2 linked regions of the Homo sapiens genome follow. The protein of the gene in region 1 purifies or fractionates together with the protein of each later gene. This does not show direct contact. Each region holds a gene or a part of one and is shown in the gene's direction. Other genes may lie near its edges.

Region 1 (7,026 bases):
CTGTCCACAGTGGCTGGGGAGGCTACCCCTTCTCAGAAGGCCCACAAGCCAGCAGTGCCTACCTACCCCTGGGGCAGGGGCTGCCACAGGCCAAGTCTGCAGCCTGTGGGAGGGTCTGGGGCTGGCCCTGGCCTTGAGGTCAGTGGGGAAGCAGGATGCTCCCTCTGTGGTTTCAGAAGAGAAGCTTCTGTCTGACAGCATGCTGGTGGAGGCGCGGGAGGCCTCGGAGGAGGACCTGCTGGTGGTGCACACGAGGCGCTATCTTAATGAGCTCAAGGTACAGGATGTCGGGCCTGGGGGGCTGCGGGCCTGGGGCAGGGGGCTGCTGGCCAGGAGTGGCCAGAGGCAGGAGGTGACTCAGCCTGGGGAAGCCAAGTCTCACAGGGCACCCATTCATGTCCCTAGTGTTGGAGGAACATGGGAGTCTGTGGTCCCCAAGAGAAGGAGAGAGGTCATAAAAAGGCAGACCTCAGTTTGGGCCAGGCCACTCTGAGGGTGGTGTCCTCCCCTTCTCCAGGGCGTATGAAAGCCTTCATAGAATTTTAGGCTTCTACATTATGACTTTCAAGCTGTGCTCTGTCGACACGCCTCCGAGACCCCAGCCCCTGTCCTCCAACCATACATAGCTCTTTCACTTTGGTCTATTTTGTTTGTTTGTTTGTTCATTTTTTTGTTGGTTTTTGTTCTTGAAATGGAGTCTCACTCTGTCGCCCAGGCTGGAGTGCAGTGATGTGATCTCGGCTCATTGCAACCTCCGCCTTCCGGGTTCAAGCAATTATCCTGTCTCACCCTCCTGAGTGAGTAGCTAGGATTACAGGCGCGTGCCACCATGCCTGGCTAATTTTTTTTGTATTTTAGTAGAGATGTGGTTTCGCCGTGTTGGCCAAGCTGGTCTCGAACTCCTGAACTCAGGTCATCTGCCCACCTCGGCCTCCCAAAGTGCTGGGGTTACAGGCGTGAGCCACCGCACCCACCCTATTTTTTATATTGGGCTGAAGTTTAAGACTCTGGTCTAAGTACTTCTGCTGAAGTTTTGTTGAAAATTGTTGGTCTAAAAACTAATTTGAAACCCTCAGGGCTCAGCAGAGAAGAGAAACAAGTGGGAGGGCCGGTGGTAGAGTCTGAGGTGAACTCCTGCCCCTTCCCAAGGGGCGGCTCCTCAGCTCCACTGTGGGCCCGGCATGGCCAGAGCACCTGGTCTTCAAAGAGAAGCCAGGAATCCAGATTATTAAGTGACATTTCCTGATTTTTTTTTTGAGACTGAGTCTCGCTCTTGTTGAGCAGGCTGAAGTGCAGTGGCACGATCTCAGCTCACTGTAACCTCCGCCTCCCGGGTTCAAACAATTTTTCTGCCTCAGCCTCCGAAGTAGCTGGAATTATAGGGGTGAGCCACCACACCCGGCCCTGATTTCTTAATGTGGCACTCATTATAAGATTGTAAAAGCCCACCTGTAGACCAAACTGGGCACACTGGCTGCCTGCTTGTGACCTCTTTCCAGAGAAGGACACAGCTCCTATTAGTGGCTGAAGTTCTGAGGGCTGAGGCATTCAGTTCAGTGCTCTTTGTAGGAACAGAGGGGAGGTTGGGGCGGGGGCTTGCATTGGAATCTGGTACTGCCAGCCTGCCTTGGTGGGGGTGGGGTCAGGGATGCCTCAGGTTATCTGCCCCAAGAGTGTGGGAGCCCTGACCCCCAGGCTCCCTGGCTGAGCTCACCTTAGACTCAGAGCCACAGTGGATGCCTGAGGCCAGCAGGCCCCTCTGCTCCACAGGTGGAAAAGCCTAGGTCCAGAAAGAGGCTGTGCTCAAGGTCACCTGGGAAGTTGGCCGGGCCTTGGGGAGACCCCTGGCAGGTCATCCAGTCCAGTCTTCTAGGTTCCCAGTCAGGGCTGCTGCCTCCCTGCTCCCCAACCGCAGCCTGAGGTGTGAGAATTCTAGATAGGGCCACGACAGTGTGAGCACATGAAAGATTACCAGGAAGAGGTTGAAACCTGGCTCCTGGGAGAGAGAGGGGTGTGAGGCCTTGGCAGGAAGCCCAGTGCTTGGCTGCCCTGGTTTCCTGGGGCCCAGGCATGCGTGGTCACAGTCCACAGCCTAGGGCTGGGCCAGGAGGACATGCCTGCCAGAGTCCCGAGGGTGAGGGGAAGGAAGGGACAGGAGGCGCTCAGCTGGGGCAGGGAGAAACCAAAACAGAATGGTGTGATTGAACCAGGCTGGGGGTGGGGGGCCTAGGTTCCAGGGCCCCACCCATTTGAGGGGCCTTCAGGGGAACTGTGTTGGGCAGGCTGCATGCCTGGCCTTGGTCCCCCAAAAGCCTGAAAGCAGCTTACTATGTGATATATAATAATACAAAATAGCTGGGTGTAGTGGCATGCACTTGTAGTCCTAGCTACTTGGGAGCCTGAGGCAGGAGACCTTGAGCCCAGGAGTTTGAAGCTGTAGTGAGCTATGATTGCACCACTGCACTCCAGCTGGTATGACAGAGTGAGACTGTCTCTTAAAAAAAATAATAAAAGTATTAACAGGTAGAGTCCCAAGTAGAAAACTGAGGTTGAGGGTAGGAGGAGAATTCAGGTATGTCCACTGAAAAAGTTAACCAAGATGGTGATCCAGCTGCATATTTGGCTTGGAGCTCCCTGGCAGTCAGAACAAAAGGAGAAACATGATGGTTTCTACGGCACCTATTAAGATGAAGAAGTAGGCCGGGTGCAGTGACTCATGCCTGTAATCCCAGCACTTTGGGAGAACGAGGCGGGCGGATCACTTGAGGTCGGGAGTTTGAGATCAGCCTGGCCAACATGGAGAAACCCTGTCTCTACTAAAACTACAAAATTAGCCAGGCATGGTAGTGCATGCCTGTAATCCCAGCTACCTGGGAGGCTGAGGCAGGAAAATCACTTGAACCTGGGAGGTAGAGGTTGCAGTGAGCCGAGATTGCGCCATTGCACTCCAGCTTGGGCAATAAGAGTGAAACTCCATCTCAAAAAAAAAAAAAAAAAAAAAAGAAAAAGATGAAGAAGTAGTCAGTCATTCAACACATCTGTATTGAATGCCAACTGTACAGAGAGAATAAGACAGCAGGGCTCTCTGCCACCATGGATTTGCATTTGAGTCGTGGAAGATTAAAATTAAGGAAGCAACCACCCAAGAGCATTTTAGAGAGCACCAAGGGCTATGAAGAAAGTGAAAAATAGAGGGTAATTGGATGGTCAGGGAGGGCCTCACAGAGGAGGTGATGTTTGAGTTGAGACTAAACAAAGGAGCAGGTGATACTCATGTAGAGGTGTTTTTTTTTTTTTTTTTTTTTTTTGGAGAAGGAATCTCGCTTTGTTGCCCAGGCTCGAGTACAGTGGTGCGATCTCAGCTCACAGCAACCTCTGCCTCTTGGTTCAAGCGATTCTCCTGCCTCAGCCTCCCAAGTAGCTAGGATTACAGGCACCTGCCACCATGCCCGGCTAATTTTTGTATTTTTAGTAGAGACGGAGTTTTCACCATGTTGGCCAGGCTGGTCTCGAACTCCTGACCTCAAGCAATCCATCTGCCTCGGCCTCCCAAAGTGCTGGGATTACAGGCATGAGCCACTGCTCCTGGCCCTCATGTATAGCTTTGAAGGAAGAATGTTTCAGAATCCCAGGCCTGGAGGGTGGAGGGGACTTGATCTTCCAAAGGGGAGAAGAATGCTTGGGAGGCCGGATGGAAGGGAATAAAACATTGTGGCTCGTACACGGTGCAGTTAGGGAGGCCAGAGCCCCAGGCCACACAAGGTCTTGCAGGCCGTGGGAGGAGTGTATATGTTGTTCCAGGGACCTTGGACAGTCACGAGGGGGTTTTCAGCAGGAGGGTGATATGGTGTGACATGCCCTTGCTGCCCAGGTGGGACCCAAGCCCGTTTCAGACATCATCTGGCACCTAAGGCTGCAGCTCAGGAACATCTCCCACCTCCCTGCAGATGTCTGCAATGTTTCTTTTCTCCTTCCTCTGCTGTGGGCGCCCAGAGAGTGCCCTAGAGAGTCCTTCAGGTTTCTCAGGCTGCTTTTCCCTGGTCATTCTGTGTGTGCTGTGTAACATCCACCGTCTCCCCTGCCTCATCCCATTCTACCCCCAACCCCTGCCTGGGGCTCATGCCTGACTCTGCACTGGTGTGGCCTTTGATACTTAATAAACAGGGCACTGAAGGAGAAGCAGGAGCTGGACGTTTGCAAGATGTCAATTCAGGGAAACCCATGTTTATCAAGCTCCTGCTGTGTGCAAGGTCCAGGGTTGGCCCCTCTGAGGGTAGCTGTTGAGCTCCCCAGTGCCCCAGCACTGGGCTCTTGCCTTTGGTTGATTCTCGGGTGACAGTTTGCCATGGAGTGTCGGTTAGTGCTGGGCAGCATCTGACATCCTGCCCCTGTGCACTCTGCACTGGACAGTGCTCAGAACACGTGGATCCAGCAAGTGCTCAGAGGGCACCACTCTGTGATCTAGGTGCTGCAGGGATGGGATGGAGCAAAAGACCACATCCCTTTCCTGCTGGAGCTGGCATTTAGGTGGGAGAGTCAGACAATAAATGTAATAATTAAGTAATGAGATAATATGTTAGATGGTGCTGAGTGTCGTGAAGAAAGGAAGGGACAGCAGAAAAGGGGTGGGGAGAGCTGGTGAGAGGATGGCAGTTTTAAATCAGGAGTCAGGAAAGGGCTTACTACCTGTGATCACAGGTGACATGTGGGAAGGGAGTGAGGGAGTGGGTGATGTGGTCATCTGGGGAAGGGCATTCCAAGCAGAAGAAACAGCAAGTGCAAAGATCCCAGGGCAGAACTATCTGTCATGAGTTCCAGTATAGTGTGGAGAGAAGGAGACACAGACCATAGCTCCATGGAGCACCTGGAGGGACCCTGGAGAGTCTCTAGGGGAGTGAGCTCCTCTTGGTCTCCAACTCTCTCTTCTCTTCCCTGAGGGGCTCCTCTCTCCTTTAAAAAAAAATTTTTTTTAATTGTGGTAAAATTTACATAACAAAATTCGCCATTAACCACTTTAAACTGTACAGTTCAGTGGCCTTTAGTCCATTCACAAAGTGCTGCAACCATCATCTCTAGTTCCAAACATTTTCATCACTCCAAAAGGAAACCCTGTGTCCTTTAAACACTTGCTCCCCATTTATCCCCCCAAGTCCCCTTGGTAATCACTCACCTGCATTCTCTCTCTATGGATTTGCCTATCCTGGATATTTCATATAAATGGAATCATACAATATGTGACCTTTTGTGTCTGGCTTATCTCACTAAGCACAGCGTTTTCAACATTCATCTGTGTTGTGTTGTAGCATGTATCAGTACTTCATTCCTTTTCACAGCAGAATGATATTCCATTGTAAAACACTACATTTTTTTTATCCATTCATTAGTTTATAGGCCTTTTGGCTATTGTGAGTAGTGTTGCTGTGGACATGTGCATACGAGTATTTATTAGAATACCTGTTTTCAGTTATTTGGGGTATACACCTAGGAGTAGAATTACTGGGTCACATGGTAATTCTGTTTAATTTTCTGAAGAACCATCAAGGTGATCTCCACGGGGGCTGCACCATTTCCACCAGTAATGTACCAGGGTCCCAATTTCTCTACATCCTTTTCAATGCTTGTTATTTTCTGGTGTTTTTTTTTTTCCCCCCCAGTGTGGCCATCTTACTGGATGTGAAGTGGTATCTCATGGTTTTAATTTGCATTTACCTAATGGCTAATTAACACTGAGGATCTTTTCATGTGCTGATTGGCTATTTGTATATGTCATTTGGAGAAATGTTTATTCAAGTCCTTTGTCCATTTTTAAAATTGGCTTGTCTTTTTGTTGAGTTGTAGGGTTCTTTATATATTCTGGATATTATTTAATTTGTAAATAACTCCTCCCATTCTGTGGGTTGTCTTTTTTTTGATAGTGTCCTTTGATGCACAAAAATTTTAGTTTTGCTGAAGTCCAATTTATCTTTTTTTCCTTTTCTTTAGGTGTCATATCTAAGAATCCATTGCCAAACCCAAGGTCATGAAGGTTTACCGCATGTGTTTTCTTCTAAGAGTTTTATAGTTTTCACTTATATTTAGGCCTTGATAAATTTTGAGTTAATTTTTGTATATGTGTGAGGCAAGTCCAACTTCATTGTTTTGTACTCAGATATCCAGTTATCCCAGCACCATTTGTTAGGCTGTTTTTCCCCTGTTGAATGGTCTTGGTACCTTTGTAGAAAATCAACTGGCCATAGATGTATGGATTTATTTCTAGACTCTCAATTCTATTCATTTTTTTGGTTTGTTTGTTTAAGAAAGGGTTGCATTCTTTCGACAGCCCAGGCTGGAGTACGGTGGCTCCATCTTGGCTCACTGCAACCTCCGTCTCCTGGGTTCAAGCAATTCTCCCATCTCAGCCTCCCAGGTAGCTGGGACTACAGGCGTGTGCTACCATGCCTGGCTAATTTTTGTGTTTCTTGGTAGAGATGGGGTTTCACCATGTTGGCTAGGCTGGTCCTGAATTCGTGACCTCAAGTGATTTGCTCACCTCGGCCTCTCAAAGTACTGGGATTACAGGCATGTGTGAGCCACTGCGCCCAGCCAATTCTATTCATTTGATCTATATGTCAATACCACACTATTTTGGTACTGTTACTGTGGCTTACTGTGGTTATTGTGGCTTTGGAGCAAATTTTGAAATTCCAGATTGTGAGGCCTCCAACTTTGTTCTTTTTTTTTTTTTGAGACGCAGTCTCGCTTTGTCGCCTATGCTGGAGTGCAATGGCGCGATCTCGGCTCACTGCAACCTCCGCCTTCTGGTTTCAGGTGATTCTCCTGCCTCAGCCTCCCGAGTAGCTGGGATTACAGGCGCCCGGCACCACGCCTAGCTAATTTTTCTATTTTTAGTAGAGATGAGGTCTCACCATGTTGGTCAGGTTGGTCTCAAACTCCTGACCTCATGATCTGCCTGCCTCTGCCTCCCAAAGTGCTGGGATTACAGGCATGAGCCACCGTGCCCAGCCAACTTTGTTCTTTTTTAAGATC
Region 2 (7,026 bases), on another chromosome or scaffold:
TTAATTTTGATGAAGTCCAGTTGATCTTTTTTTCCTGTTATGGATTGTGCTTTAGATGTCATATCTAAGAAATCTTTGCCTAATATGAAGCCACAAAGGTTTTCTCCTATCCTTTCTTCTAGAAGTTTCATAGTTTTAGGTTTTACATTTAGGTCTGTGACTCTTTTCAGGTTAATTTTTATTATAGGGTGTGAGGCCTGGATTAAGGTTTACTTGTTCCAGCACTATTTGTTGAAAAGGCGATAGCCTTTTCTGTGAACACCAAAAATTCCTTTGTCCTATGAACACCAAAAATTTGAGACAGGTCTCAGTTAATTTAGAAAGTTTATTTTGCCAAGATTGAGGACACACCTGTGACACAGCCTTAGGAAGTTCTGATGACATGTGCCCAAGGTGGTCGGGGCACAGCTTGGTTTTATACATTTTAGGGAGACACGAGACATCAATCAATATGTAAGAAATACATTAGTTCCATCCAGAAAGGTGGAGACAGCTCAAAGCAAGGCCCCCCCATTGGGGACTTCCAGGTCACATGTAGGTGAGAGAGGGATGGTTGCATTCTTTGGAGTTTCTGATAAGTTTTTCCAGAAGAGGCAATCAGAATATGCATCTATCTCTGTGAGCTGAGAGATGACTTTGAATAGAATGGGAGGCAGATTTGCCCTCAGCGGGGTCCCCAGCTTGAAGAGGCCCAAGATATTTCCCTTTCACAGTCCATTGAATTGCTTTTGTGCCTTTGTTGAAAACCAGTTAACTATATGTGTCATGGAAGGGTTTAAGGTAAGTAAACAAATTGCCTTTTTTTTTTTTTTTTTTTTTTTTTTTTTAAAGAGACGAGGTCTTGTGTTGCCTAGGCTGGTCTCAAACTCCTGAGCTCAAGTGGTCCTCCTTCCTTGGCCTCCCAAAGTACTGGGATTACAGGTATAAGCCACTGTGCCCAGCCATAAATTGCCTGGCTCAGCCTTCCGAGTAGCTGGGACTACAGGCGCCCACCACCACGCCCGGCTACTTTTTTGTATTTTTAGTAGAGACGGGGTTTCATCATGTTAGCCAGGATGGTCTCGATCTCCTGACCTCGTGATCTGCCCGCCTCAGCCTCCCAAAGTGCTGGGATTACAGGTGTGAGCCACCGCGCCCGGCCGTAACCACAGGTCTATAAATTACCATTTTTAAGATTACTCTGTCTGCTATGTGGAGATAATAGATTGAAGTAGGTATGGATAGTGATAGTGAAAATGGGAACTGGTATTTATTGTGTATTTTATGGGAACTAGTACTTACTGTGTGTTTACTATGTACCAAGCACTGTCCCGCACCTTTTACATAGATTATCTTGTTGAATCCTCAGAATGGCTCAATGAGGTACACGCTGTTTTTTCACTTTACTGATGGGGTAGTGAGGCACACAATAACCTGCACAAGGTCATTCCATTGGTAATTAGAGATGGGAATCAAACTCAGCCAGTCTGACTCTTGAGCTGCTCTTCTCAACTGGGCTTCTGTGGGAGACTTAATACCTAATGCCCTAAGGCCTCCATTGTCTATAATGAATTCTTCTTTTTCCCCTGCATCTGTAACAGTACTAGCTATGTATCATTCTTGGGAGAACTGAGTAAAGAGCCACACAAATCATTTTCTGTAGGTTTAGAACTCTTGCAGAGCCCTGCTTCAGAAAGGCTACTCAGTGCTCTTGCTCATAATCACTGGAGTAACTGCAGGGTTCTGAAGAGATTAAGGTGGGTCAGATTCGGAGGATGGCAGCAGGAACTGAGGGAAATGGACAGACTGGATGGTCGTGGAGACACACAACTTGAGAGAGAGGTCAGGAATGACCTCCAGACCTCTGCCGCAAGCAGCTGGTTGAATAGTGTTACCATTTACTAAGTTGAGAAACAACTGGGAAACTATAAGTTTTTATGGTGGGATGGGATGGGGCTTTCATTTTATGATGATAGCTTTCATTTTCTATATATTGATTGAGCTTGGGTAGCTTGAGATGCATAAGTGATATAACTTGGTTGTAGTTCATGATACATGGTAGCCATGCAGGGTTGTAGTCAGACTCTCCCATCTTTTGTGGGCAGCGCGGGGCGGGGTGGGGGTGTGCATAGAACCAGCTAGAGTGTAATTTTGAATGGAGGACACTTACCTAAGACTCAGCACTCCCTGATAGTACTGTCTGCAATGATGGAAAATGTTCTGTATCTGTGCTGACCAGTGCTGTAGCCACTAGCTACATGTGGCTGTTTCGATTTTGACTAATTAAAATTGAATATTCAAATGTAACCATTCTAGGAAATATCTGTACCTTTGAAAGTATTAATATTTCTTAGTACTTTGGCAAGACATGGTCTGCTGTATTTCATATGGTGTTTTACTATGTAACTTATTTACTTTGTACCTAATCTAATTGTTTCACATTACCTATTTTTTTTCTTCTTTCCAGCTGTTAGGCAATTTTCTTCAGTGGTATGGCATTTTCTCAAATAAAACTCTGCAAGAGTTATCAATAGATGGTTTATTAAATCGATATATTCTCATGGCTTTTCAGAATTCAGAATATGGAGATGACAGCATCAAAAAAGCCCAAAATGTGAGTTAAATGCATAGTACAGTTTTTAAAGCATATAATTTAAAATGAATTAAGTTTTTGTTTGTTTGAAGAGGGATTTGAGAATTTTATGAAACCCCTTTGATTACTGGACTTGCATGTAAGGTTGACAGTTTGCCTACCCAGGTAGTTCCAACCCCCTACAGCATTTTTTACATAAAAATGCATACTGTTATATATATATATATCCATCTATATCCATATTTTTATAGATATTAGTGAAAGTTTTGATATTTTTATAGGTATAAATAAAAGTTTTGATTTCAGAATAATAACCTTATTATCTTAACCTCAGTCTGGGCCAACTCGACTTCCCTTAGCAGCATGCATGGATGTCTATTCGTGGAATTATTGCAGGGGATGGGGGTGCTGTAATTTCATTTTTATACCACTCATTTTTACATCAAAAGCTGCTGGAAAAGGAAATTCAGTATATTTAGGCCATCCTAGAAGACTGGAAAATGAAGCAGTTGGTTGTCAGTTTTATGTTACTAATTTACTCAAATATTGGACAGATTATCTTTTGCTTTGAGTGCCTAACCCATTGGTTGGGGTAAAAATTTAGGTATATTGGTTTAGTTAATGTAGGAAGTCAGATTTAAAAGAATATTTCTTCAGAGTAATTGCTGTAGCTCAGAAGCACGTCTTCTGGTGAAATACATTTATACCCATTAACTAGACTTTGCTTTTAATACTTTAATTTATTCTGTCTTAACTATTTTATTTTACGTCTTTCTTCTCCACAGGTAATCAATTGTTTCCCCAAACAATGGTTCATGAATCTGAAAGGAGAAAGGACTATTTCTCAGTTAGAAAACTTTTGCCGATACCTTGTACACTTAGCGGATACAATTTATAGAAATAGTATCGGGTGTTCTGATGTGGAAAAAAGAAATGCAAGGTAATTTTGTAATTAATGAAATGGTAATCTAGAGTTGTTTAGTTGCCAGATTTAGTATTAAAATGTTTTAAGTAGAGATGTTTATATTTTAGTTTAAATTGTATGTTCACTTAGTATTATAAACCTACCAAAAATGCACATAATTTTTCATTTTAGCAGTTTTTACTTTTTTTCAGTATGTTATTTATGAAGATACTAAGGAAAGACTTCTGGTAAGGACCAACCCTCAGGGGAGTGAGTAAACGGTTGTTTTCTCTGTCTCCCTCTTTGAAGAATTAGAGAGGTCTCAGACTCTCTTGTTTGGAGTTTCATTATGCAGATTTAAATTCAAGTTTATCTCCCAATTTGGGGAGATTTTTTGTTTTAATCAATATTATGAACTAGAGGTTATCACTCATGGCTTTTTGGGGCAACTTATTTCTAATTTTTATCAAGGGTTGTAAGAAAAGAGTGAGTGAACCATTAGCCTTTCTGTGGACATTAATTTATGGGTGTTCAGGTAATTCTGGGATAAATCTCTAGCATAAAAAGTAAATAATAACACTAAGTAGGGCAGTTTGAAGGAATTGTCTTTTTAAAATTTTAATTTCATATATCTTCATAATGTCAAAGTCTAATTTTTGTTTAGATCACACCATTAGTCATACCCCTATAACAAAACCTTCTTCTGATCCCTCATTCCCCTTTCTTGAAAAAGGACCTATTTTCCTGCAAGAAAATTGGATATTTTTTCCACAATAAAATTAAAGTAGCTATTAAAGATTTTAGGCCAGGCATGGTGGCTCATGCCTGTAATCCCAGTACTTTGGGAGGCTGAGGCAGGTGGATCATGAGGTCAGGAGATGGAGACCATCCTGGCCAACATGGTGAAACCCTGTTTCTACTAAAAATACAAAAATTAGCTGGGTGTGGTGGTGCGTGCCTATAGTCCCACCTACTCGGGAGGCTGAGGCAGGGGAATTGCTTGAACCTGGGAGGCAGAGGTTGCAGTGAGCTGAGATTGCGCCACTGCATTCCAGCCTGGTGAAAGACCAACACTCCGTCTCAAAAAACAACAACAAAAAAGATTTTAATGGTAAAATTCTTTGGCAGGTTTTGGCTGATTTGATTTTGTTCTTAGTGTGTGCCATTTTGTTATTTGTTGGCACTAATATTTTTTTCTCTGTGTTTTCTACTAGATAAATTTTATCACATTTTAAACTTTGATTTACATATATTTAACAGTGTTTCTGTTTGGAAGTTAAATATCAACAAATAGTGTTTACTTTTCTACAGAAAAGAACTTTAACAGCTATGTAAGCACCTGCTTTGTGCAGTGCACATAAAGCAGGTTTCATGTGGGTTGGAAAGTTTTGCAAATTCTAATTCTTCCCTAATAGGTGCTTACTACAATTCTGTAGAAGAGATGAGACAATTACTAATGTCATATTATGTCTTGTTTCTCGTGAGTGGTTTAAGCTAAATGTTAAAACAGTCATTCTTAAAGTGTGGTCCCTGGACCAGCAGTATCAGCATGGCATGGGAGTCTGATAGACTTGCAAGTTCTCGGGGCCCCACTCTGGGCCTCTTGAATAGAACTCTTGGGGTGGGGCCAGGGATGATCTGCATTTCAACAATCCTCTAGGTAATTCTAATGTGTGCTAAAATTTGAGGATTACTTCCTAGTAAGAAAGCAGAATGACTTCTAGCTGGAGTGATAAGGAAAGTCAGATTATACTTTATTTAGTGAATTTTGGTGGAGTGGAAATTATGCTGGATCTTGACAGATTGGTGATGAAGAGACACAAATAACGATTTGTGTTCCAGGTATACGCTAAAACAGCCAGGACTCTGGTTTGGGAAGGAATGGGAGACAGGCCTCTGAAGTAGTTTGAAAACAGATTGCTTTCTTTTCTTTCTCAATATTAATGAAACTCATTGATCTCAATGAATTTTGTTTTGCTTTTTTAAAATGGGTCCCCTGTCTCTGGGCTAGTCATTTAAACATATGTAAGTTTTGTTCTATATGGATAAATGTAAACTTTTTTTTTTTTAACATGCTGTAGCTTGCATATCTGTTTCCTTTCTTTGAAAATGTGTGCTTGGAAAAATTGATTGCAGAAGCTCTAAAATAGCCATGAAATCAGTAGCAAATTTTCTCTTAGATATACTAATTAATGAGATGCTGCTATATTTTTTTCTTTTAGGGAAAACATAAAACAGATAGTAAAACTCCTTGCAAGTGTTCGAGCTTTGGATCATGCTATGTCTGTTGCAAGTGACCACAATGTGAAAGAATTTAAGTCTTTGATCGAAGGAAAATAGATCTATGAGACTGAAAAACCTATTTGCTTGATTACCATTCCCAATGTGTAAATTTTGTATATATGTAAAGTTTCTTAAACTGTAAAATAGCAATTCTTGTTTTAATACAAAAAACATTATATTCAATACTGTGTCCTTAAATGATATTTCTTCAGAATGAAAGGAATTCAGATTATTTCTAGGAGTCTATGAATGTTTTCTTTACTGCCTGTCATACTTTGTTTACTGAAGTATTTTGTATGGTCATTTAAATTAACCCTCTCAGTTAATTGTCCCCTGTAAACGATGTGTGCAGTGTAAATTGTGTAATTATGCATATATATATTTATACCACCATGGACTTACTTTCACACTGGAAATTTGTGGTGTTTTTCCACAGAGGAAGCCTTTTAACAGCAGAAAATTATCCGGTAGCAAATTGTCTTAGGGAAATTACTACACTGTTGTAACAAAAGGGCTGGCAAGTGACTAAATGTTCATTACCTTTTGGTTAGCGTTGCTATCACTGTAGCTGTGCTGCCTTAACATTGAGAGTTGAGTTGTGGACTTAGTCATTGAGTGAATGTTGAACTTTCTTCCTTGAATCAGCGTTAGAGTCAAATGTGGGTTTAATGTGAATGCTAAATGAATATGCAACATAGTTTCAAATGGAACATAGAAATTTCACTTTTGAAAATAATAAACCCACAACCTAATTGCATGGTTTTGGGCTGACCGTCCTGTCTCATTCATGATTTTACTCCCTGCCCAGCTTGCAGATACATGCATTTGAATTTTAGTAGTCTGTCATATTTAAAATCCCACATATGTGAGTTAAATATGCAATAAAGAATACGCCTTGCTGATTAGCCACACCCAGGCAATTTAATATCCATGGTCTTCTATAATGTTTATACCACATTGTAAATATTCAGAGAACTTGTTTTAAAGTTTATGCTTTCTGATTCTGTGATTTTCAAAAGAGGAATTTTTTTGGAAATTAAGGACTATCGTTTGATAATTATATATGTAATTAAGATTTAGCCAAGCATTAAATTAATTTTTAAATATATCCTTTGTTGTATTTTCCTGACGACTAAATTTGCAGCATTTCAAATGACTCTAATAAAGTGGGACTGTGAGCAGGCCCATGTGTACCCTTGATCAGGACATAATATGCAGAACAGTGTCATGCACTGTATTTGCTCTGTTAATTTTATCTTATCCCTAC

The links. Proteins that work in one complex are often made in the same cells at the same time.
Region 2: the proteins of HDAC11 (region 1) and PAXBP1 purify together in Homo sapiens (co-immunoprecipitation; 4 studies listed by BioGRID and IntAct, with this or other methods). This does not show direct contact.

What each region holds. Positions count from the first base shown.
Region 1 is NC_000003.12:13,483,288-13,490,313, forward strand, and holds part of HDAC11 (histone deacetylase 11), read left to right. Parts: intron 1-176; coding exon 177-277; intron 278-7,026. UniProt on the Homo sapiens protein: Responsible for the deacetylation of lysine residues on the N-terminal part of the core histones (H2A, H2B, H3 and H4).
Region 2 is NC_000021.9:32,733,740-32,740,765, reverse strand, and holds the end of PAXBP1 (PAX3- and PAX7-binding protein 1), read left to right. Parts: intron 1-2,424; exon of another isoform or gene 2,425-2,446; coding exon 2,447-2,593; intron 2,594-3,357; coding exon 3,358-3,512; intron 3,513-5,698; coding exon 5,699-5,816; 3' UTR 5,817-6,867; downstream 6,868-7,026. UniProt on the Homo sapiens protein: Adapter protein linking the transcription factors PAX3 and PAX7 to the histone methylation machinery and involved in myogenesis.